7 linked regions of the Homo sapiens genome follow. The protein of the gene in region 5 purifies or fractionates together with the protein of the main gene of each other region. This does not show direct contact. Each region holds a gene or a part of one and is shown on either strand. Other genes may lie near its edges. The genes, in order: FAF2, MYO5A, MUL1, LETMD1, PEX19, SCCPDH and FAM174A.

The links.
Region 1: the proteins of PEX19 (region 5) and FAF2 purify together in Homo sapiens (affinity purification with mass spectrometry; 6 studies listed by BioGRID and IntAct, with this or other methods). This does not show direct contact.
Region 2: the proteins of PEX19 (region 5) and MYO5A purify together in Homo sapiens (affinity purification with mass spectrometry; 3 studies listed by BioGRID and IntAct, with this or other methods). This does not show direct contact.
Region 3: the proteins of PEX19 (region 5) and MUL1 purify together in Homo sapiens (affinity purification with mass spectrometry; 3 studies listed by BioGRID and IntAct, with this or other methods). This does not show direct contact.
Region 4: the proteins of PEX19 (region 5) and LETMD1 purify together in Homo sapiens (affinity purification with mass spectrometry; 4 studies listed by BioGRID and IntAct, with this or other methods). This does not show direct contact.
Region 6: the proteins of PEX19 (region 5) and SCCPDH purify together in Homo sapiens (affinity purification with mass spectrometry; 4 studies listed by BioGRID and IntAct, with this or other methods). This does not show direct contact.
Region 7: the proteins of PEX19 (region 5) and FAM174A purify together in Homo sapiens (affinity purification with mass spectrometry; 4 studies listed by BioGRID and IntAct, with this or other methods). This does not show direct contact.

Annotation. Positions count from the first base shown.
Region 1 is NC_000005.10:176,507,385-176,510,574, forward strand, and holds the end of FAF2 (FAS-associated factor 2), read left to right. Parts: 3' UTR 1-2,690; downstream 2,691-3,190. UniProt on the Homo sapiens protein: Plays an important role in endoplasmic reticulum-associated degradation (ERAD) that mediates ubiquitin-dependent degradation of misfolded endoplasmic reticulum proteins.
Region 2 is NC_000015.10:52,312,381-52,315,880, reverse strand, and holds part of MYO5A (unconventional myosin-Va), read left to right. Parts: intron 1-1,677; coding exon 1,678-1,758; intron 1,759-2,032; coding exon 2,033-2,185; 3' UTR 2,186-3,500. UniProt on the Homo sapiens protein: Processive actin-based motor that can move in large steps approximating the 36-nm pseudo-repeat of the actin filament. Can hydrolyze ATP in the presence of actin, which is essential for its function as a motor protein. Involved in melanosome transport.
Region 3 is NC_000001.11:20,502,050-20,505,151, reverse strand, and holds part of MUL1 (mitochondrial ubiquitin ligase activator of NFKB 1), read left to right. Parts: intron 1-1,842; coding exon 1,843-1,930; intron 1,931-2,962; coding exon 2,963-3,083; intron 3,084-3,102. UniProt on the Homo sapiens protein: Exhibits weak E3 ubiquitin-protein ligase activity. E3 ubiquitin ligases accept ubiquitin from an E2 ubiquitin-conjugating enzyme in the form of a thioester and then directly transfer the ubiquitin to targeted substrates.
Region 4 is NC_000012.12:51,051,327-51,054,826, forward strand, and holds part of LETMD1 (LETM1 domain-containing protein 1), read left to right. Parts: intron 1-761; exon of another isoform or gene 762-765; coding exon 766-881; coding exon of another isoform or gene 882-920; intron 921-2,451; coding exon 2,452-2,534; intron 2,535-3,500. UniProt on the Homo sapiens protein: Plays an essential role for mitochondrial structure and function, as well as thermogenesis of brown adipocytes.
Region 5 is NC_000001.11:160,276,307-160,279,220, forward strand, and holds the end of PEX19 (peroxisomal biogenesis factor 19), read right to left. Parts: 3' UTR 501-2,914; downstream 1-500. UniProt on the Homo sapiens protein: Necessary for early peroxisomal biogenesis. Acts both as a cytosolic chaperone and as an import receptor for peroxisomal membrane proteins (PMPs).
Region 6 is NC_000001.11:246,727,409-246,730,908, reverse strand, and holds part of SCCPDH (saccharopine dehydrogenase-like oxidoreductase), read right to left. Parts: intron 1-3,500.
Region 7 is NC_000005.10:100,559,374-100,562,873, reverse strand, and holds part of FAM174A (membrane protein FAM174A precursor), read right to left. Parts: intron 821-3,500; coding exon 686-820; intron 1-685.

The sequences.
Region 1 (3,190 bases), on a different chromosome or scaffold from region 5:
CTGCCTCTGGGGAAGAGAGGGAAGAGAAAGCACAGAGCAGAGAAGCAGAGATGTTCCTTGAACTGCCCACAAGTTTTCAATAACTTTTATTTCTGTTTTGTAATGACCAAAGGAATGAGGCTGACATAGGTATATATATATATTTTTTTCCTTTATTTGATAAAGAGCCAATTCTTTAAACCCATGAGTTTATGCCCTGGGCTCCTTAGCCCACAATAGTGTAATAAAAGTGCCCCGGGCTGGTTTGTGCTTATTTCTGCCATTGTCCCTCTCACGTTCCCAGAGAGGTCATTCTTTTTGGTCCAACTCTTGCTGTCCTTTCTTACCACCTGTGCACCCCACTTGGAGCAGTGGGAGGAAATCTGGGTTTGTGGCCCCACAAAGGCTGTATATGTAAAGATACACCTATGTATGTGGTGGAACTCACCTTTACACACAACTGCAGCTTTTCCTTGGAGTCTGTACCAGGTGGTGGTTATGGGGTCTGAACCAAAGGATAGCAGCTCTTCATTCCTCTTCTGACATGTGCATGCTGCTCCCCCCAGCCCTGGGCTTTCCTGAATTGCCAAGCCTGGTGCCTTTCCAAAGGACTAGCAGGGCCTGTGGTGGAGCCAGCAGAACCACAGGAGAGTGCCCTGCCTGTCTCAGTGGAAGTGTATTATTGTTTTAAGGATAGAACCAGAGGCCTTGAAGGGAGCCAAGACAGAACTCCCAGCCTGTGTAATCTATTGGAAGGCACATTTTCATTTCTGATGCAGCCACCTTCTGGAGGCAGCTTTTATCCTTTCTCTCTATTGCTATGTTGAAGTAATAGGGTTTTTTTTAACCTCTGGATGTCTCGTCTGTGGTTGAGTTTATGGTAATGGGTACATGGGTCAGGCCATGTATTAACAGATGCCAGTGCGCTCTGACAAGTATTCCAAAGTGTTCTGTAGCTAGACTGGTGCAGGCTCGTTGTACCACTGCAACCGACTGACGTTACTGTAGTTCCTAGAATGCTGTGAGGGCGGGGGGTTCAGATCAACATAAAGCCTAACTTGCTGGAGTTGTAGTCTCAAGGCTTTCTCTCTTGCTTAACTAAAACCTAAGGACCACTGTTTTTGGTAGCAATTATATGGTTACTATCCACTGCAGTCCTCAGTTGTTGGGGTAAATCCCACATGGCAGAGTAAGGCACCCCACAGAAATTAACTTGGAGAGCCTGAGAAATTCCCAGTGGCCTTGGCATAGCTGTCTAGAACACCATCTCTAGGAAAATTTAATTCTGTCCCTGGCCAGCTATTGTTCTTCCACTTCGTTTTCTGCTGTCCCAAGGCCAGATGAGTGGAATCACCATCTGACTGCTGTCAATAAAATGTATCTGGCGTGAACAGCAGGATAACCCATGTTCTCCACATAAGGATAACCTTACGTGAAACCTTCCTGCTGACAACCATGCAGAGGAATTTTTCCACTTAAGTCAGAGCCTTCCTCCCCATCTGGAATTCACAGCTGTTCCCTGGCAGCACACAGGAGGGTATTAAGGACCTTTGTGAGGCTAGGTACACTGTCCACACCTCTTTGGGGAAGTTACGATTTTTTTTTTCCATCATAATTCAGTCTCTTCTTATTCTACAGTGTGCACTTTATGCCTCTCGCCTTTTGATAATAGTTGTTCAGTGAAGGAAGTCAGCTGCCAGAATATTAAGAAGGGTCTCCCTTTATGTCAGTACAACTGTTAGGGCGGCCTTCCCATTTACTTTAGGTTTCAAGAGGATTCACCGGAAGCACATGCCCCGGTCTAGTCCCATTTGAAACAGTTCTGCTTTACTGAGACCCTAGGCCGGTCTCCTTGCTGACCCTAGCGCTGCTGCCTAGGTGCCATTTCCTTTCCTCCTCAGTCAAATACAGGCTGCACATTTTGTCACTTAATGCCAGTACAATCTGTGTTACTCCTAAGGACTTTTGGGATTTTGATGAGACCTGCGAGGGAGAAGACACTGAGAAGCCAGTGATCTGCAAGCATTTGCTCTTGTTTCCACATCACCTCTGGGATATTTCAGCTGTTGTTTCCAAATGGCAAATCATCAACTAAAAGCACTTGTTTCAAGTTTTGTTCTGCACTCCCACGACTGAAGTTGTAGATTGAGCTGAATAACCATGGGAAGTGACCAAGCAAAGACACTCGATTGGAGTCAGTTGAATATTTGTACCCTCAGTGGAGCCCTTCTGGTCTTTTCTTCCACTTCTGCAGAATTTCCTCTAGCAAATACTTCTTTCTCCTTGCTTGCCTCCACCATGATATTTGAATAAGAGATGGCCAGAGGATAACACTTGTCTCTTAAAAACTAAGCTAAAAAGAACCTAGAACCTTCAATTGAGCAGTTGTGAAAATTGCTAATGGTGCCAAGGCCAAGCAAAGAGTTTCAGAAAATGACTGAGAAGGAGCGATAACCCCCAGAATGCAAAATCAGGGGCATCATTATCCGGTGCTTGAACAAGGAGCTCCGCTCTACAACTGGTTTTTTTAGGACTTGTGAGGAACACAGCAACGGAAATCCATCCACAAAGGATGCAGTGCCCCAACTTGTACTGCGCCTGAATAGTCATGTGATAATTTACTGAAGAAATCTAGTGTACTTTAAATTTTTTTCATAAAAGTTTACATTGTATTGTAGGTTAACATTAAATGTTTTATAGCAAAAACTTCATAACAGGCTGTGGATCTTTCTGTGTGGGACCGATGTGGTAGATAATTTTCTATGTGTGAAGGAGAGGTTGAAAAACACCGGGAGGGAACAGCATGGCATGGCATTGCCAAGAAGGAAGGGAGAGTCAAAGAGAAGGATGGAGTTAGGTCTTCTCTGTTGTATCCCTGTGGAAAAATAGCAACTTAGTATGATGGAGAGAGAGAGCAGACAGGCCTGGGTTCAAATTTGGGCTCTCTAGTTTGTCAGGTTTGCAACCTCGGGCAAATTCTCTAGCTTCCCTGAACTTGAATTTCCCCAGCTATAAATGAAGATAATGCCGTCCACCTCAGGATAGGTTTATAGATTCAATCAAGTAAATGTATATGAGGCTCCTGATATGTAGATGTCATTAAGTGTTTGTTCCCCTTCTATGGGAGTGTATTTTGTAAGAATATTTTCTTGGAATAACATTTTCTTAAGGAATTTGTCACTTTTGTTGGAACCAACTTGTGTCCTTGCAA
Region 2 (3,500 bases), on a different chromosome or scaffold from region 5:
AATCAGTTTGAGACCAGCCTGACCAACATGGTGAAACCCCATCTCTACTAAAAATACAAAAATTAGCCGGGCATGGTGGCAGGCACCTGTAATCCCAGCTACTCTGGAGGCTGAGGCAGGAGAATTGCTGGAACCTGGGAGACGGAGGTTGCAGTGAGCCAAGATTGCACCACTGCACTCCAGCCTGGGCAACAGAAAAAATCAGTAGGCCAGGCGTGCTGGCTCACACCTGTAATCCCAGCACTTTGGGAGGCTGAGGCAGACAGATCACCTGAGGTCAGGAGTTCAAGACCAGCCAGGCCAACATGGTGAAACCCCATCTCTACAAAAATACAAAAATTAGCCAGGCATTGTGGCGGGTGCCTGTAATCCCAGCTACTTGGGAGGCTGAGGCAGGAGAATGACTTGAACCTGGGAGGCAGAAGTGGCAGTGAGCCAAGATTGTGCCACTGCACAGAGACTTCATCTCAAAAAAAAAAAAAGTCAATCAGTAGACAATCAGAATCAAGACTTGCAGCTTCTTAATGTTGAATTCATGTTTGCATAACTTCTTACTAAGAATAAAGCAGAACTATCTGACAGAACAATGGTCCTGAGATTTCCTCCCAGTTTCTGCAAGTGTGGAAAGTAAGAATACCCTGGAGGAAGCCCAACTTTATAGAAGTTGGCTGCCATTCAACTTCTAAAGAATATACTTTAATACTTAAATATACTTTAAGCATATTTCACAGAGTGAGGCAGACCTGCAGTTTATTTATTTAGCAAATATTAGTTAACAAAGTGGTCCCACTTTTTAAAATTCAAATACTTGCCTCCGAGAGACTGATCCCTAATTCAGTTTGTCACCCACAGACCTGATAACAACATGCCCACTTTCTAGTTCTCTGGTGCTTAATTTATTTTCCTATAGATCAGCACTGTCCTGCATTCAACTTTTATTTTCATTTTGTGTTAATAGCCACATGTGGCTAGTGACTACTACTGTTGTATTGGACAGCACAGGTTTAGACAATACCTTGAAAATGGAAATATCTACCTTATATAGACGATGATTTATTTTCATTAGAAAAGAGACATGACCATTTTACAAAAAAAAATTATTGAACTTTTTAAAAAAGAACTTCATACTCTCTAATTGATTAATTTCTTTAGGGGCTTTTGTTATTCATGTTATTTATGATCTTTTATAAAAATATGATTTAAAAAACATTCAAAAGAGATAATTGTATTAATACGGCTAACATTTTTATATGGAGAAAAGTTGCAGAATAGTATTAATAGAATGAATCCCATTTGTATAAAAATAAAATGAACTAGAATATTTATAGCAGCTAGAGGGGGTGTTCAGGACATGGTTAACAATTGCCACTTTGGGAGACTGGAAGGATGGAAGTGCGGACATTTATTTTTCATGTTTTATTCTCTTGTGCTATTTGAATATCTTCGAAATTTACACAGCTTCTTACAATATTACACAAACATTACATTGATACATTCTCTTGTAAAAATTCAGATAAAGGTAAATGTGCAGACCAGCTCCTCCTTCCTTCTGGTCCCAGCCCACCCCTGAGTAGAACTGAAATCTGTACGCACAGATCCTTTTAATTTTCCAGATTATAGGTACCCAGTGTGTATTTGATAATATGCCAAAAACTTTGATCATTTCATTTCTCACAGATTGTGAAAGTGTTGAATTTGTATACTCCAGTTAATGAGTTTGAAGAAAGAGTCTCTGTGTCGTTCATTCGTACTATACAGGTAAGAGCTCCCATCTTCTTCTTTGATTCACCAACACAGTCTTTTGAATGGACATTTTGTAATTTATTGAAGGATAATGTGTTATCTTTTATTATCTTATTTTACAATGCACTAACTTTTTTGATAATAGTTAATTGGGAAAATGAAGTGAGTTTAAAACAAAAGTAAACATTCTTCATTAGTTGAGAATTTGAGGGTAGAAATTTTAGTAGAAAAAAGTCTTTTAGATTCAAAGAACTGATGCTCTGTTTATTTTTTTTCCTAATCTTCTCAGATGCGTTTACGAGACAGGAAAGACTCTCCCCAGCTGCTCATGGATGCTAAACACATCTTTCCTGTCACCTTTCCTTTCAACCCATCTTCCCTCGCACTAGAAACCATCCAGATTCCAGCCAGCCTCGGCCTGGGCTTCATTTCACGGGTCTGAAAGTGATGTCCAGGCAAAAATTGACAATACATTTCTTGCCCGAAATAAGAACCCATTATTTCCAGTGAGTTACTGAAAATACATTTTTAAAGAGAAAGTACTGATTATCTCCCAAATGAGAAGTCATTAACTGGAAATCTCCCTAGAATACTTTCATCACTTTGGAAACAAAGATAGGCTCTTTCGTGCTGTGTTATCTTTATAGCAACACTCATCCTTAACCAACTAGGTACCGTGAGTTTACATACAGGAGAATGATGGAAGGAAGGGAGGAAGGAAAGGAGGAGAAAAATGTGTCTTCAGCTGGCAGCATTTATTTTAAATCCTTAGCACTGAGTTTGAATGGTATAAAAAGTATAACTTCCATAGATGAGCTGTTGTTAGGAAGGCACCAAAGAACCTCCTCTGCACTAAACAGGAGAATGGAAAGAAAAGTCTCCATTGAGTACATATCATGTCAGTTTAGTAATCAATTATGTTGATATTGTTAAACTGGTTCAAAGAAATAAACTGGCAATATGTAAAGTAATTCCTCATTTGTGTCACTATGATATAGAGATATTAAAGGAATGTTGGTTTGCTAAATAGTATAGATGTCCATTTGTACTATAGTTTACTGAGCATTTTAAATTGCTGCTACATACTGTCTTCTTAAAATGTAAGTGATATTAGGCACTACAATAAGTTTCTCTTGTCAATTCTGTTTACAATTCAATCAGATCACAGTTTTAACTGGATTATATGCAAATACCTACAGATTCACCTGCACAAGTAGCAGACACTGGAAAGTCATGTAGTAATATGACAAAATGCTTGACATTTAGGGGTAGGATTAGACAAAGTGGCTATTGTTGATGTCATTATTTATTCAGGATGTATTACATTGATGTGCTCATTAATTTTCCCTGGGTGGATATTGCGTCAGGGTACAGTGTTCTGTGAAGTGACTTATTTTTAACTACCAGATCTGATTCCTTCAGTGCATATTTTCAACCTTGACAGGTTTTCTCTCTTCTTAATTTATTAAGAATTAATCTCGGCTGGGCGCGGTGGCTCACGCCTGTAATCCCAGCACTTTGGGAAGCCAAGGTGGGCGGATCACTTCAGGTTAGGAGTTGGAGACCAGCCTGGCCAACATGGCGAAACCCTGTCTCTACTAAAAATACAAAAATTAGCCGGGCGTGGTGGCACTTGCCTGTAATCCCAGCTACTCGGGAGGCTGAGGCACGAGAATCGATTAAACCTGGGAGGCGGAGATTGCAATGAGATCGAACCACTGCACTCCAGCCTGGGTGACAGAGAGAGACACTGCCTT
Region 3 (3,102 bases), about 140 Mb from region 5:
TTTAACCCACATAAAAATCCTGTGAAATTGCATTTTCCCTGTCCTTTATGGTTTTGGAACCTGAGACTCAGATAAATGAAGTTGTCCCAAGTCACAGTGGATGCATTGGCGCTAGATTAAACTCCAGATCTTTCTGATCATATTCTCCCTCTTCCCCCTTTAAAATTCGAATTGGCCATCCTGTGGTGGATACTTTACTAGCTGTCTCACTTTGGGCAAATCACTTCACCTCTCTGAGCCTGTTTCCTTGTCTGTAATTGGTGATAATAATGTCTACCGTAAAGGGATGGTGTGGGCATTAAGTGGTTTATGCATTTAAAGTGCCTAGCATATTGCCTGGTACATAGTATATTTAAATGCTTACTTATTCATTAATTTATTAATCAAATAATGTATTAAATGCTTGCTGTGTGTCAGGCACAGTTCTCCGCACTAGGGGGATAGCAGTGAACAGGACAAACAGTGTCCAAGCCCTCCTAGAGTTTAACATTCTAGTGGAGGGAGACAGATAATGAGTAAATTGTTAGTTGTTATTGCTGTCATTTTGGTATCTTCACAGTGTAAGTGGCTAAGAAATTTTGATTGACCTTGCTCCTGTCACTTACTGTGTAGCAGTAGCTTAAACTCAGAGTGACCTTCATATACATCTTGTATCACATCACCTCTTTAGAGGTTACTGAATCTGGCATCCTTAAGAGTTGTTTTTGGGAATACCCTGAAAGCAGAGATGGTCCTTTATTCGTCCTGAATCTCTGACACCCAGCACAGTGCCTGGCACAAAGATGCTCAGGAAATGATTGTTGATTTTATTCCTTTTCTCTTATTTTTGAAACAGCAGTAACAGGATTGGTTTCCCAAGTGCAGTGGGTTGGACGCTCTGAGTTGGAAGGCAGAGGAGAACTAGGGATTGTTAGAGGAAGACAGCAGCAGAAAGAACCGTGCTCACTTAATTATGAGCATGAAAAAGGCAAAAAGTAGAACAGACTGGGTGCGGTGGCTCACACCCGTAATCCCAGCACTTTGGGAGGCCGAGGCAGGAGGATCGCTTGAGCTCAGGAGCTCAACACCAGCCTGGGCAACATTGGGAGACCCTGTCTCTGCAAAATAAAAAAATTAGACAGGTGTGGTGGTGCATGCCTATGGCCTCAGCAACTTGGGGGCCTGAGGTGGGAGGATCACTTGAGCCTGGGAGGTTGAGGCTGCAGTGAGCCATGATTGCACTACTGCACTCCAGTCTGGGTATAACAGTGAGACCCCATCTCAAAAAAAAAAAAAAATGTAGAATGGCATTTGGCACCAGTTAACAGTCTTCCTGTTGAAGCAAAGGCAACTCCCCCTGCTTTGTTTTTTTAATAACATACAATGCAGAGCATTGGTTCGTAAAGATGTGGTAATATTAATAATAACACCTACCAGTTCTCAAACCACTGCCATGTGCTAGGTGATAGGTTAGGTACTTTATACCTGAACCCTTTGGATCATAGCTCTGTGTTGTCAGGAAGAGATTGAATGATGTTCAGTCTGTGGTATGTAAATTGACTAGTACCTTTTATATTTTCACTAAAAAGTCTTAACATGAAAAGGAGTATAGGTTTTGGTTAACTGGAACAAGAATGTATGTGGCACCCCCATTCTGCAGTGATGGAAGAGGCAGAGGCATGGCTCCATTCCTGTTGATGTACACAGCTTTGAAATCTGATTCTCAGTAGTCACCTTCCTGTCCAATTTCCATATTCTCTTGACACGAAAAAAATAGAATCTTTTTCTTTTTTTTGCCTGTAAGTTTGATTGAGCATGTCAGTGTTCAATGGCCAATTAATTTAATTTTTTTTTTTTATTTAGGGAGCTAAAAAAGTTCATTTGGGTGAAGATTTAAAGAGTATTCTTTCAGAAGCTCCAGGAAAATGCGTGCCTTATGCTGTTATAGAAGGTATGTTTGCTTATTGGTCAATGGAAAACAACGTCTTTTTCCCAAAAGATTGATAAAGATCATCTTGGCTAATATGAAGAGCCTTTTGTGGTGTTGGGTCCATGGTCCAGAACATACTTTGGGGTCAGAAAGACATGGGTTATTGCTTTGTGATCGCTAAGATTACCAAACCTCCCTGAACCACTGTTGCCTGATCTCGAAAATAATACTTACCTTTATGGGGTTGTTATAAGACAAATTATGTGATCCATGCAAAGTGCTTAGGAGAGTGCTTCTAAAATGTGACTTATGGTGATCAGAATGTCATTGTTTTGATGAATTAGCAAAAGTCAACTGAAAACACTTAATTTTTAACATTTTTTAAATTAAAAAAAAAATTTTTTTTTGAGGCCAGGTGTGGTAGCTCATGCCTGTAATCCCAGCACTTTGGGAGGCTGAGATGGGCTGATCACTTGAGCTCAGGAGTTTGAGACCAGCCTGGTCGACATGATGAAACCCCGTCTCTACTAAAAATACAAAAATTAGCTGGATGTGGTGGCACATACCCGTAATCCCAGCTACTCGGGGGGCTGAGGCAGGAGAATTGCTTGAACCCGGGAGGCGGAGGTTGCAGTGAGCCAAGATTGCACCACTGTACTCCAGCCTGGGTAACAGAGTGAGACTCCGTCTCAAATAGAGTCTTGGCTCTGTCACCCAGGTAGCTGTAGTATGGTGGTGTGATCATAGCTCACTGCAGCCTCAAACTCCTGAGCTCAAGTGATTCTCCTGCCTCAGCCTCCCAAGTATCTGGGACTACAGGCACATGCCACCACACCCTGCTAACTTTTTAATTTTTTGTAAAGATGGAATCTCACTGTGTTAACCAGGCTGGTCTCAAACTCGTGGCCCCAAGTGATCCTTCTGACTTGGCTTCCCAAAGTGTTGGGATTATAGGTGTGACCTACTGTGCCAGACCAGAAAACACATTTTAAATTATCTGAAAGGAGAGGGCAGAAAACTTCTTCAGAAATAATAGAATTTGTGTCCACTTAGGAGCTGTGCGGTCTGTTAAAGAAACGCTTAACAGCCAGTTTGTGGAAAACTGCAAGGGGGTAATTCAGCGGCTGACACTTCAGGAGCACAAGATGGTGTGGAATCGAACCACCCACCTTTGGTATGTATCACTTCTCCAC
Region 4 (3,500 bases), on a different chromosome or scaffold from region 5:
TCAGGAGGTGGACGTTGCAGTGAGCCGAGATTGCGCCACTGCACTCCAGCCTGGGCGACAGAGCAAAACTCCATCTCAAAAACAAAAATAAGTGTTCCAGGCCGGGCGCAGTGACTCATGCCTGTAATCCCAGCACTTTGGGAGGCCGAGGCAGGTGGATTGCTTGAGGTCAGGAGTTAAAGACGAGCCTGTCCACATGGTGAAACCCCATCTCTACTAAAAATGCAAAAATTAGCCAGGCATGGTGGCACACGCCTGTAATCCTAGCTACTTGGGATTCTGAGGTGGGAGAATTATATAAACCTGGGAGGTGGAGGTTGCAGTCAGCCGAAATCGCACCACTGCACTCCAGCCTGGGCAACAAAGTGAGATTCCATCTCAAAAAAAAGAAAAAAAAAGTTCCAGAAAGGAGATTAAATTAATATCTGGCTGGGGAATACATAGGGTTAATTTAGCAAGACTTTCTGAAGTTAGGGAGCTTGATTTTTAAAAAGGAGTGACCAGTGAAACAGAAGAGGGAGACCATTCCATAGCAGATTACAGAAGCCAAATGTAGCTAGAAGAGAGGCGATGTGCTAGGGGAAAAAATGTTGAGAAAAGAGATTCGAGTTGACCTCAGGAGTTTCAAGTTACCTAGTTTAAAGCTTTGAGTATCGTTGGGGAGGGGTGAGAGTGTTTGCATGTGATTGAACATGGAGTAGGAAGCTGTGGTTAAGATTTAAACTGGGATAACATCACACTCTGTCCTCTACTTTAATGAGGCAGGATTGCAGATGTTATGGGCTGATGCCAAAAAGGCTAGAAGAATAAAGACAAATATGTGGAAGCACAATATAAAGTTTCATCAACTTCCATACCGGGAGATGGAGCATTTGAGACAGGTATGGGCCAGGGGCAGATATCCAGAAGTTCATGGTGAGGTAATTACATTTAATCAAGATCTCAAGGTTTTTTCTTTCATTTGTTGTTCACCATTGATCAAGCTTTTGCCCTTTGCCGTGAGAACAAAATATTGAACTGAATGAGGCATCAGATTATTTGTAAGAATTGGGTTCATCCAGAGTTGTAGCCCTCCATAGCAAGAGCTCCATAGAATTTCTGGCACACTTTCTGAATGAAAGTTGTAAATACTAAAATCTAATTAGTTTCTGAACATAACAAAAGTCTGCAAGGGGGCTGGGCGCGGTGGCTCACGCCTGTAATCCCAGCACTTTGGGAAGCCGAGGCAGGCAGATCACGAAGTCAGGAATTCGAGACCAGCCTGGCCCACAAGGTCAAACCCCATCTCTACTGAAAATACAAAAATTAGCTGAGTGTGGTGGCGGGCGCCTGTAATCCCAGCTACTCGGGAGGCTGAGGCAGGAGAATCGTTTGAACCCGGGAGGCAGAGGTTGCAGTGAGCCAAAATCATGCCATTGCACTCCAGCCTGGGTGACAGGGCAAGACTCCATCTCAAAAAAAAATAATAATAAAATGAAAATAGAAGTCTGCAAGGGCAGCCAGGCACAGTGGCTCTCGCCTATAATCTCAGCATTTTGGGAGACTGAGGTGGGCGGATCACCTGAGGTCAGGAGCTTGAGACCAGCCTGGCCAACATGGTGAAACCCCATCTCTACTAAAAATTCAAAAATTAGCTGGGCATGATGGCAGGCGCCTGTAGTCCTAGTCCCAGCTACTCGGGAGGCTGAGGCAGGAGAATTGCTTGAACCTGGGAGGCGGAGGTTGCAGTGAGTGAAGATCGCGCCACTGCACTCCAGCCTGGGTGATAAGAGCAAAACTCTGTCTCAAAAAAAAAAAAGTCTGCAAGGATCCAAAGGGCAGCATGAAAGTAGTATTTGGTGGTGACTTGATGGGTCGTTTTGAAGCTGAGAGTAAGAATCTAGGACCCATTCCGCAGATCAGGAAGAGTTCACTGAAGGATTTGGTATAATGTCAGGCTCTGTACTAGACATTATTTGGGATACAAAAGTAAATAAGTCAGAGGTTTTGTCCTCAAGGAACTAACCATCCAGAAGTAAATAGAAATAAACTTGGGGACCACATGCAGTGCTCATGCCTGTAATCCTAGCACTTTGGGAAGCCAAGGCGGGCAGATCACTGGAGGTCAGGAGATTGATACCAGCTTGTCCAACATGGTGAAACCCTGTCTCGACTAAAAATACAAAAGTTAGCCTAGAGTGGCGGCTTATGCCAATAATCCCAGCTACTCGGGTGGCTGAGGCAGGAGGATCACTTGAACCCAGGAGGCAGAGGTTGCAGTGAGCTAGGATTGCACCACTGCACTCCAGCCTAGGTGACAGAGCAAGACTCCATCTCAAAAAGAAAAAGAAAGAAATTTGGTCCTTTTTCTGGGCTGTAATAGAAGTTTACTGTACAGTGGGGTGGATGGATTGTCTATTGTATTAACAACTTATTTGGGTTAAAACTGCATCTGTGTTTATTTCTGCTTAGTTCCGCCAAGACGTCACCAAGTGTCTTTTCCTAGGTATTATTTCCATTCCACCTTTTGCCAACTACCTGGTCTTCTTGCTAATGTGAGTACAGACTTCCATCTCCCCAACATCTTGAAGATGTATCAATTTTTTTAAATTAAGAATTACTTTAAACAGCACTCATTTCAGAAGATAGGCAGAGGTTATCAAACTTCTGCTCCAATCTTCTCATTATTCCAAGGTTCATAAAAACCACTTAGGAAGACCTTGGTTACTGTGACACATCACAGCTATAAGTGTAGGTGGCCTAGACTCTCCCTATCTCTTAGCTGCCCTGAGTCATGTGAAATAAGATAGTGACCTTCTCCATCATCCCTAGAGGCTCTCTCCCCGAGAGAGAGTACTTTTAGACTAATTTCTTTAGGAAAAGTACATTTCGTATTCTGATAACATTTTTATTACTTCATATCCAAAAATGACATTTCTTAACTGTGATCTTGCATGTCATTCATTATCTATTGCTGTATAACAAATAACTTCAAAGCTTAATAGCATAAAACAATCGTATAAATCATTTTCATGATTTTGTAGCTCAAGAATTAGGGCAGTGCTCAGGTGGGCAGTTGATTTCTCTCTTCCATATAGGGTTGACAGAGGTCCCTTAGTGATATTTAGCTGCTGAATGGACTAGTCTGGAAAGTCCAATATCACTCTTATGTCTGGTGCCCTGGCAGGGATGGCTACACGGCTAGAACTGTCAACCAGAGTGCCCAGATGTGGCTTCTTCAGTATGGCAGCCTCAAGATAGTGGGACTTCTAACTTGGGAGCTCAGGGCTCCAAGAGTGAGGGGTTCTAGTAAGAATCTACATGACTTTATAACCTTGTCTTGAAGGTCACATAGAGTCACTGCTGCTCTGTCCTATTGATTGAATCAGTCACCTAGAATGAAAAAAGGGCAGGATGTAGACCTCAGCTCTCCATGAGACAAGTGCCAGAGAATTTGAGGTCATGTTTTAAAACCACCAAACACGTAGATAAATAAATTAAAAAACAAATCGTGGCCAGGT
Region 5 (2,914 bases):
GCTCCTAGGACCACTCACATTCCGTTAGCCATCTCCACTTTGACCTTGCTACCCTTAAGGAAATTTACTCACCTTGCTTCTGAGAGTTAAGTGTTGCCACCTGGCCTCTGCTATGTCAGGATCCTATCATTCCCCCACTGCTACTAGGAAAACAGTTTCTTTTACATCTTGTATCAGCTTCGATCTAGAGAGACAGCCACTTCTAAATTTCTCAAAGATGCTGGTAACCCTTCATCAGTGCCTTTCCCATTGTCTTTATTAAAAAATAATTCCCAGGTCTTTCTGGGGTAGTCAGCTGGTGGGTTTACCAGTGTTATATAACATTCATTCTTGCATACCCATTTCCTCTAAGTCTTTTGGTCCTTTTTTGTATGGTCTGCCGTCTCCACGTCATTCAATATGGGCCAATGTTTTCTCCTAGCTCCCCAAAGCCATCTTAACATCATATTATAACTGCCTCATGGGGCTTTGACAAGACCTTCCAGAGTCACAGGAAAATGTCCCAATTATCAAAAAGTCTGTATTAATTCAATTCTTAATTCATGAAGCCACCCATACAATCACAAATTTATCTAACACATTTAATTTTGGAACAAAGGAGCAACTCCTTTAAAGTTTGAGAGTCGCATAAATATTTCATATACAGCTTAAACCTAAGCTTTGTAACGATTATTTTTGAGCAGCAGAAAAGGAAGGCTAGAGAAATGCTAGAGATGTCCTTACTAGTGACACATTCTTGCTGAAGAACAAGTTCTCTGGAAGTGAAACTCAAATAGGAGAGAACAAGAGATACAGGTAGGTATCAGTTCTGCTAGGGTCTTCAGAGAGACCGAGGGCCCCAAAACAGTGCTACTCAAAGATGATCTGCAGACTTGTGCTGGTCAGTGAACACCTTTTTTTTTTTTTCACCAGTCTGTGACATGGTGAATTAGAAATTGAGAGTGTTTAAAAACTTTTTAGCATTTCAATGTTGCTGTGATATCCAAGTACATGATCAATGGACTTAACCTACAGAACAGTCTGGCCAGTTTGGGTGCTGTCAAACTTGCCGGGTCGGCAGCACACAGTGTGAACTCCATACCTGTCATGGGCAATAGGAATGCATATTGATAAGTGAAGGACTGGAAAACAAAAAACCTGGTCCTTTACCATACATAGTTTGAGAAAGACTGCCCTAGAGTACCATAACTCCACCACAAGTCCTGGAATAATTCCAAAAGTTTTTGGAACAAAGTGTGACCTGAGGTCAACCTGCTCACATTCAATCAAAATCAAAATAAAAATGAGTGCCTTGGGAACAAAGATAAAGTGGACTAGGGCATCTATTTAGATTCCTGGAGTAAGCCCTGGCTAGGCTAGCAGAAGTGAGAATCTGTAAAAGAAAACTGGTAGGACAGAAGGCACAAGGTTCATAGAGAAGGGCTCTTTTGTTCTTCCCTCCTCCTCTCTATCCTTGTCCAGTTTTTGGCTGGAGCTTTAAGGAGAAAATAGTGACACTGAAGCCCCATGACTATATCACAAGTATACCTGTATTTTTTCCATCTCTGGCAGAACAGAGACGTTTTACATTCAGATCTGGGCTCTTCCATGCTCTGGTAAGGTATAGGAGTTGGAATTTCCCAAATAGCCTGAGACCTTGAGAACATTTCCTTCCTCACCAATACCATAAAACATGTAAGGTCTTCAAGGGGTGAAAAGTTTTAACCTCGGGGCAAGTGACATGTCAGAAGCTCAAAGCGACTCATAATGCATGTGAATTTGCTTTGGAGAGACTTATCTTCTGAGTGAACCAGGACAGCCAGCTGAGCTGACCAGAGTACCTACCAACATATGTCAGCCAAGGTCCGTAGACCCACTGGGAGCCACAGAAAAAAAGCCACGTCAGCTTAAAGAAAAATAATTTAGAAAACATAACAATATATTACTAACATTAATAACAATAATGTAAAAGGTTAAAATATAATACCACTTGAAGGGCTTTCTACATTGAAATACTCAAGGGAACATGAGGAAAGATGGCCATCCAGTCTCCTTTGCCAACTGAGGTGCAGACTGAGTTGTGGAAGGTGGGTGTTGATGGAACCCAGCATTACAATATTGTGTAGAACTAGTCTCCTAATATACCTCACTCTGCAACTTACGGAAGCTGAGGAAGATCAGAAAAAGACCACACTCCTCACTCAGAATATTTATTATATTCTGCCCCATGGGGCCTTGCAGGAAAAGGGACCCAAGCTATACCCCTACTCCTTTTCCAAGCTACTTTCCTGAACCAAGGGACAGGATTCTAAGAGAATCATGTATCTCAAATAAGCCAGAATGTATCTGGGGAAGAATAGCCATTAATTTCCTAGACCTGACACTGGGTTTATTTGTGTCTGCCAGGAAGACGGGGAGTCAGTGAGAATCGTAAATGGACTAGATGAGGGGAAATAGGATGGGCCCTTCTTTATCACAGCTTGAGCTCAAAAAGGTTGGGATAAACAGGTGTTTAAAAAAGAGAGGAGGTAAAAGGGAGGATGGGCAGGGGATAGAGGAAGGTCAGGGGCTGGGTTCACCCATATCACACAGCATTGTAGGAAGAAGCAGGGTAACCATTTGAGTTCTCAGCCTGGAACAGGGAGGTGAGGGCTCAGCACCTAGAGAGAGGAGAATCCTAAGGCCTCTCTTTCAACTCTATTGTGATTAGATGCAAAAGCCCTTTCCCTTTAGAGAATTCAGAATGGTCTGTCTGAAGGCAAGAGAGCATAGTGACAGACCTGTAGCCCCAGCCCAGGCTGTTTCTCCCCATTCTCAAAGGCTCTGCCAGGAGAACTATAGAAATACAGAGTCCCAGGTCTCTGCCCCTCCTCCCCAGATCCAAGAGAGGGAGTAGAGACAAGGCACAAAGACCCTGGACGTAAAGGTGAACATC
Region 6 (3,500 bases), about 86 Mb from region 5:
TTTTGTATTTTTAGTAGAGACAGGGTTTCACCATGTTGGCCAGGCTGGTCTCAAACTCCCGACCTCAAGTGATCTGCCCACCTCAGCCTCCCAGAGGTTTGGGATTCCAGGCATGACCCACCGCGCCTGGCCCTCAAAGTTCCATCTTCTAACCCAGTGGTCTCCCAAGTAGTCTTCCCCTAAGGGAAGCGCAGAATGATCCACTGAGGGTGGAAGTAAATATCAGAACTTTTATCCATGTTAATGTTTACAAAAACATGACGTTCCGTTAACGGTTACTATATGGACTGACTACGAGACATTCCCTGGGCCATGTTAAGTGGTCATGTGTTGAAGACAGGACACAGCAGGTATCCTGATGGGGTTGTGGGAAAGTTTCCATCACACAGAGAGGGCCTCAGCACCACTCTTCATTCATTCAGTCGTTTTCACTTTACTGCAACCTAATGCCTGAATGAGGTTATTGAGGTTCTAAAGCTTAAACGCTGAGGCCTCAAGCATTTAGAGTGGGGAGGACAAAGACGCAGTGGAGGAGACGAGGACTTCCAGGGTGAAGCTGGTGGACAGGAGGAAAACTACGAGAAGATGACAACGTAGAAGCTGAGCAAAGAAAGGAGAAAGTGGTCAGCTGGATCGAATGCTGCAAGCTTTCAGATGAAGACTGGATTTGACAGGGTGGGACTTTAGCAGAGTAGTTTCATTGGAGGAGGGAGGAAAACAAAAGCCCAATAGGAGGCGTTTAAGATAGAGTAGGAGGTGAAGAAGCAGAGATAGTGAGTCATGAGAATTCTTCCAAGGAGGCTGCTAAAAAGGGGGCACAAAAAGTAGAGTAGTTGGAAGGGTATGTGGAATCAAGCAGCTTTTTTTAAAATATGGGAGATATCACATATTTAAATGCTGATTGAAATAATCCAGTAAAGAGGAGAAATTTGATAACAAGATAATGTGTAATTGTAAACATAAAGTGTTACAGGAAGTCAGGGACCCCGAACAGAGGGACCAGCTGAAGCCACGGCAGAAGAACATAAACTGTGAAGATTTCATGGACATTTATTAGTTCCCCAAATTAATACTTTTATAATTTCTTACACCTGTCTTTACTGCAATCTCTGGACATAAATTGTGAAGATTTCATGGACATTTATCACTTCCCCAATCAATACTGTTATAATTTCCTATGCCTGTCTTTAATCTCTTAATCCTGTCATCTTTGTAAGCTGAGGATGTATGTTGCCTCAGGACCCTGTGATGATTGAGTTATCCGTACAAACTGTAAAACATGTGTCTTTGAACAATATGAAATCTGGGCATCCTAAAAAAGGAAGAGGATAACAGCAATTTTCAGGGAACAAGGGAGATAACCATAATGTCTGACTGCCTGCGCGACTGGGCAGAAGAGAGTCATATTTCTCTTCTTGCAGAAAGCGAATAGGAGAAATATCACTGAATTCTTTTCCCAGCAAGGAATAACCCTGGGAAAGGAATGCATTCCCAGGGGGAGGTCTCTAAAATGGCCGCTCTGGGAGTGTCTGTCTTATGCAGTTGAAGATAAGGGATGAAATACACCCTGGTCTCCTGCAGCACCCTCAGGCTTGCTAGGATTAGGAAATTCCAGTCTGGCAAATTCTAGTCAAACTGGTTGTCTGCTCTCGTACCCTGTTTCCTGTTAAGATGTTTATCAATGACAGTGCGTGCCCAGCGGGACATGGAACCTCATCAGTAATTCTAATTTTGCCCTGGCCTTGTGATCTTGCTCTGCCATTTGCATTGTGATACCGTATTGCCTTTTGAAGCATGTGATCTCTGTGACCCACTCCCTATTTGTACACTCCCTCCCCTTTTGAAATCCCTAATAAAAACTTGCTGGTTTTGCAGCTCAAGGGGCACCACGGAACCTGTCAACAAGTGATGTCACCCCCAGAGGCCCAGCTGTAAAATTTCTCTTTGTACTCTTTCTCTTTATTTCTCAGACTGGCTGACACTTAGGGAAAATAGAAAAGAACCTATGTTGAAATACTGGGGGCTGGTTCCCCCGATAATAAAGTCTTTGAAAACTGTGCCCAATAGGAAGAGGACCAGTTTTTCCTTGTAACAAGAGATATGGCAGACTACAGGGTATGATGCAGATTGGCAGACAGGTAGGTAGGTAGATAGATCTGGTGGTAGGAAGATGAAGAAAGAAATTCTGTTATTAACCAGCTTCTATTTTCATAGTTAAAAAAAAAGAAAAATAAAATCAGATAAGAACAAGGAAAGAGAGACGGGATACTAAAAGTTCAAGGAAAACAAGGTTGTGAGCTGCTTCAGAGAGCAGGAGAGAGAATTCCTGAGGGAAATAGAGCAGAGCTGCCGGAGGTGCTAAGCACCACACAACGTTTGTAAACACATATTTGAAGTGTGACCAGTTAGCAGGGGGATACATTTTTCTCCAGCCACACTGTGTTACTCATGTTCAGGTGAAGAGCAGGCAGAGAATAACCAGGGCTGGGATTTTTCCAGAGTACTGAGGAGAAAAAGGCAAGGGAGATAGATGAGGGCGTCCATTATAGAGTGCAGCAGTGGACCTCATGGATGGAATCTAAGCTAGTTAAGAATGAGATGAATCTAAATCAACAACACTTCTATTTAATAGCAATTCAAAAACCCTTTTGCTCTCAATTAAAAATTATTAATATTTTAGATATTTAATTTTTAAACATCTTGCCAACTGTGATGGCTTCTTCAGATCACTAAATGTCACCAACATTCACCTTGTTACACAGGCCAAAAGTCTGATGGCCTGTGACTTGATGACTTTTTCACAGTACAACAGCAAAAGCCGTTCTCCTTTGAAAATATACTCTGGACCTAACTACTTCTCAGCACCACTACGACCCCAGGGCTTGTGCTTGCACCATTCCATTGCTCATCCTTTGTTATCTACTTTTCCACTCAGAAGCCAAAGAACTTCCAATTTAAATCAGCTGAAGCCCTTCCTTTCAACCATTCAACGCCTCTTGGTCACACCTGGAAAAAAAATCCACATCCTGGCCATGGCCCGTAAGATCCCACATGACCCAGCTCCCGGGTTGCTCTCTGATCCACTCTCCACCTCTCTGCCATGCCCAGCCACACTGGCCTCTGTCACACTCTTCAGTCTTGCCAAGCACACTGGCATCTCAGGACCTTTGTGCCTGCTGTCCCTGGAAAAGTCTCTCCTCAAAAGGTTCATGCAATTTGCTCTCATTTCATTCAGATCTTGGCTCAAATGTCAATTCCTCACAGAAACCTTCCCTGACCATCCATCTAAAAACACCAATATGCCAGGACCTTTTCTCCTTTCTTGGCTTCACTTTTCTTCAAAGCACTTTTCATTACCTCCTATTACAATCCTATTTTTCTGTCTTCCCCAAGAACGTAATGTCCACGAGGGATTTTCTGTTTTGTTCACCATTGTGTCCCAGGTGCCTACAATAGTGCATTTCACATGTGGTAAGCATCAATAAATATTTATTCAATAA
Region 7 (3,500 bases), on a different chromosome or scaffold from region 5:
ATTTACATTGGCATTTATTCTATACTCATGTCATTTTATTTATCTAAACCTCTTAGGAAAGGTCTTAACACTTACTGAGAATAGATCTCAGTATATATATTACAGCTACATGATCAGACCATAAACAATTAGTCCCCCAATTCTGCAAGGCAGCACTATTTACAAACACTAGAACCCAAACTAAAAAGAAAATATCTTCAGAATACAAAAAGGAAATTAAATTTAATAAGTATTTCTCTCTCACACACACACACACAAACACACACGCACACAAACACACATGCACACACACACCCAAGTTAATACATATTGCAAGAATGAAGAAGTTAATGGGTCCTAGGCTTAATAACTGGGTGATGAAATAATCTGTACGACAAAACCACATGACACAAGTTTACCTATGTAACGACCCTGCACTTGTACCCCTGAACTTAAAATAAAAGATAAAAACAGAAGAATAAATTAAAAAAAATATTTTGAGATGGTATTCTATTGTTTGTATCTATTTGAGCAAAACAACGTGAATGTGAGCTATGGGGTAGATAGCAAAAAGAACTTCAGTAAACAGAACTGAAGAAACTGTGTTGGAATATAAGCTGTTAAATGAAAGTCTACTTTACTTCTTCAGTTTACTTGGCAAGGACTTGCTTCCTGATTCATGGAATTAAACTACTGGAATACTTACCTTCGAGGATGATTGGCATCAAACAACGTGTTGTCATCATCCTCATCATCCTGTTCTAAAGGTGTCAATTCCATATTTTCTATGTTAGTGTCCAAAACTCCATATCTCCTAGTCTTTCGGTTTCTTCTTCTCATCCTATCAAATAGAACAAATTAATGAATAAAAATTATTTAATATGGCATAGTTTATATTTATTTATAAAATAAATTATTATTCTGTTTCTGACATAGCAAACAATATCAGAATGGTTACATTTCAGATATGCAACAAATTTACCACCTAGGATTAAACTTCATGAAACAAAACCTACTCCTACATGTTTATGTGCCATCGCCTGTTTCTTCTGTCTGACATACTCTCTTCTCTCTGTGTCAACTGATGGTGTTGACAAATAACTTTTAAGCCTTAAATTCAGGTACCGTACTTTAAACCTTAATTTTTAAAGGCTTAGGTCAGGTACTTCTTTACTGAAACCTCCTGCTCCAGCCTTTTCCCCATGTCCTCCCCGCTTTCTTACCACTGTTTAGATGCCCCTCTAAGAAACTGTATGTATATGCATATTCACAGACTAAACTGATAGCCCACAACTCTAGCTGCACACTAGAATTACCTGGGAGTATTTTTTAAAGTCCCATGTTTAGGACATAACTGAATCAAAATGTACAGCAAAAAAGAACTAAATATGAATATTTTGTTGAGGTTCTAAATGTGATTCCAATGTGATATAAACCATTATCTGAGATCAGTGGTTCTTGCAGTGTGGTTCTCTGGATCAGCAGAATCACAGTCACCTAGGAAGTTACGAGAAATGCAAATCTTCATGGCTAGCCCAGACCTAGTGAATAACAAACTTTGAAGATGGGGCCCAGAAACCTGTCTTTTAACAAACATTTCTTATGCTTTTGATGCATATTCAAGTTTGAGAACCACTGGCTTAGAGAAATTCAAAAGATTCAAGGGTGCTTAACATTCATTATTAGCCATATGAATGAAATCTCAAGATTTAGAGTCCTACTTCCAGTTTGTGTCTCAAATAACTTGTTCTTTTCCTTCAAATCATTTACCTTAATTTGCATTCCTATGTGCTGATGTATATGTTTATGTGGGGTTTATTCATCTGTCTCTCCCACTAAGTTCTCTGAGGGCAGCAACCAAGACTGCTTTATTCACCACTACATAACCACTTCCTAGCACAGTGATGTATCAATTAAGATGTTCTTCAATTAATTGTTGAGGGTCTGAGTGACTTCTACTTTGGCGACCAAAACTGTGACCCTGCAAGGAATGCCTAAGTCATCTCCAATGCAACAACTTCAACTCCACAGACAGCAAAATGTGTTTCACAAGAGTGTCCACTGGAGTTTGAAAATAAATAGAAAATATTTCAGCAAGTTATCACAAATAAAATCAGTTTACATAAATTCTGATTTACTCTGTTTGACATATGTGGGATAAGAAATACTTGGGCTATAACATCAACTGTAAAGAGCAACATGAGACTCCTCAAACATGACAGTGAAGCTCCTGGAAAACAAACATACCTTCAACAAATAATTGAGTCTTATTAAGCATCAGGTATGATATTAGCACCTGGGTGTAAAGTGCCTGGTCTCAGTGTTAAAATTTACAAAATGTTACTAAGTGTGAGTACAAACAAAGAAAATTTCCACCAGTCATTACCTATAGAGCTATCTATATACACGTCTAAAGTGATGGAACAGGAAACAGAGAGTTAAGCATAGCATTTAAAGTTACAAATGTAACCAATGAAAGGGTCAGTAAATATTAGTACTAGCAAAAATGAAGCAGTATGAAATACAAAGTACTCTTTCTTTCACAGTGAGAAATTAAGTATGTTTAGGTTGTTACATTAACATGTATATGTGTGTGTATGTGTGCAAACACACCCACACACACCATGTAGACCAGAGGTCTAAACTTTCTCTATAAAAAACCCAGGCAAACAGGGTCTGGAGTGGACCTCCAGCAAACTCCAATAGACCTGCAGCTGAGGGTCCTGACTGTTAGAAAGAAAGCTAACAAACAGAAAGGACATCCACACCAAAACCCCATCTGTACGTCACCATCATCAAAGACCAAAGGTAGATAAAACCACAAAGATGGGGAAAAAACAGAGCAGAAAAACTGGAAACTCTAAAAATCAGAGTGCCTCTCCTCCTCCAAAGGAACGCAGCTCCTCACCAGCAACGGAACAAAGCTGGAAGGAGAATGACTTTGACGAGTTGAGAGAAGAAGGCTTCAGACGATCAAACTACTCCGAGCTAAAGGAGGAAGTTCGAACCCATGGCAAAGAAGTTAAAAACCTTGAAAAAAAATTAGACAAATGGCTAACTAGAATAACCAATGCAAAGAAGTCCTTAAAGGACCTGATGAAGCTGAAAACCATGGCAAGAGAACTACATGACGAATGCACAAGCCTCAGTAGCCAATGCGAACAACTGGAAGAAAGGGTATCAGTGATGGAAGATCAAATGAATGACATGAAGTGACAAGAGAATTTTAGAGAAAAAAGAATAAAAAGAAACGAACAAAGCCTCCAAGAAATATGGGACTATGTGAAAAGACCAACTCTACGTCTGATTGGTGTACCTGAAAGTGATGGGGAGGATGGAACCAAGTTGGAAAATACTCTGCAGGATATTATCCAGGAGAACTTCCCTGGATAGGGAAGTTCTAGCAAGGCAGGCCAACATTCAAATTCAGGAAATACAGAGAACGCCACAAAGATACTCCTCGAGAAGAGCAACTCCAAGACACATAACTGCCAGATTCACCAAAGTTGAAATGAAGGAAA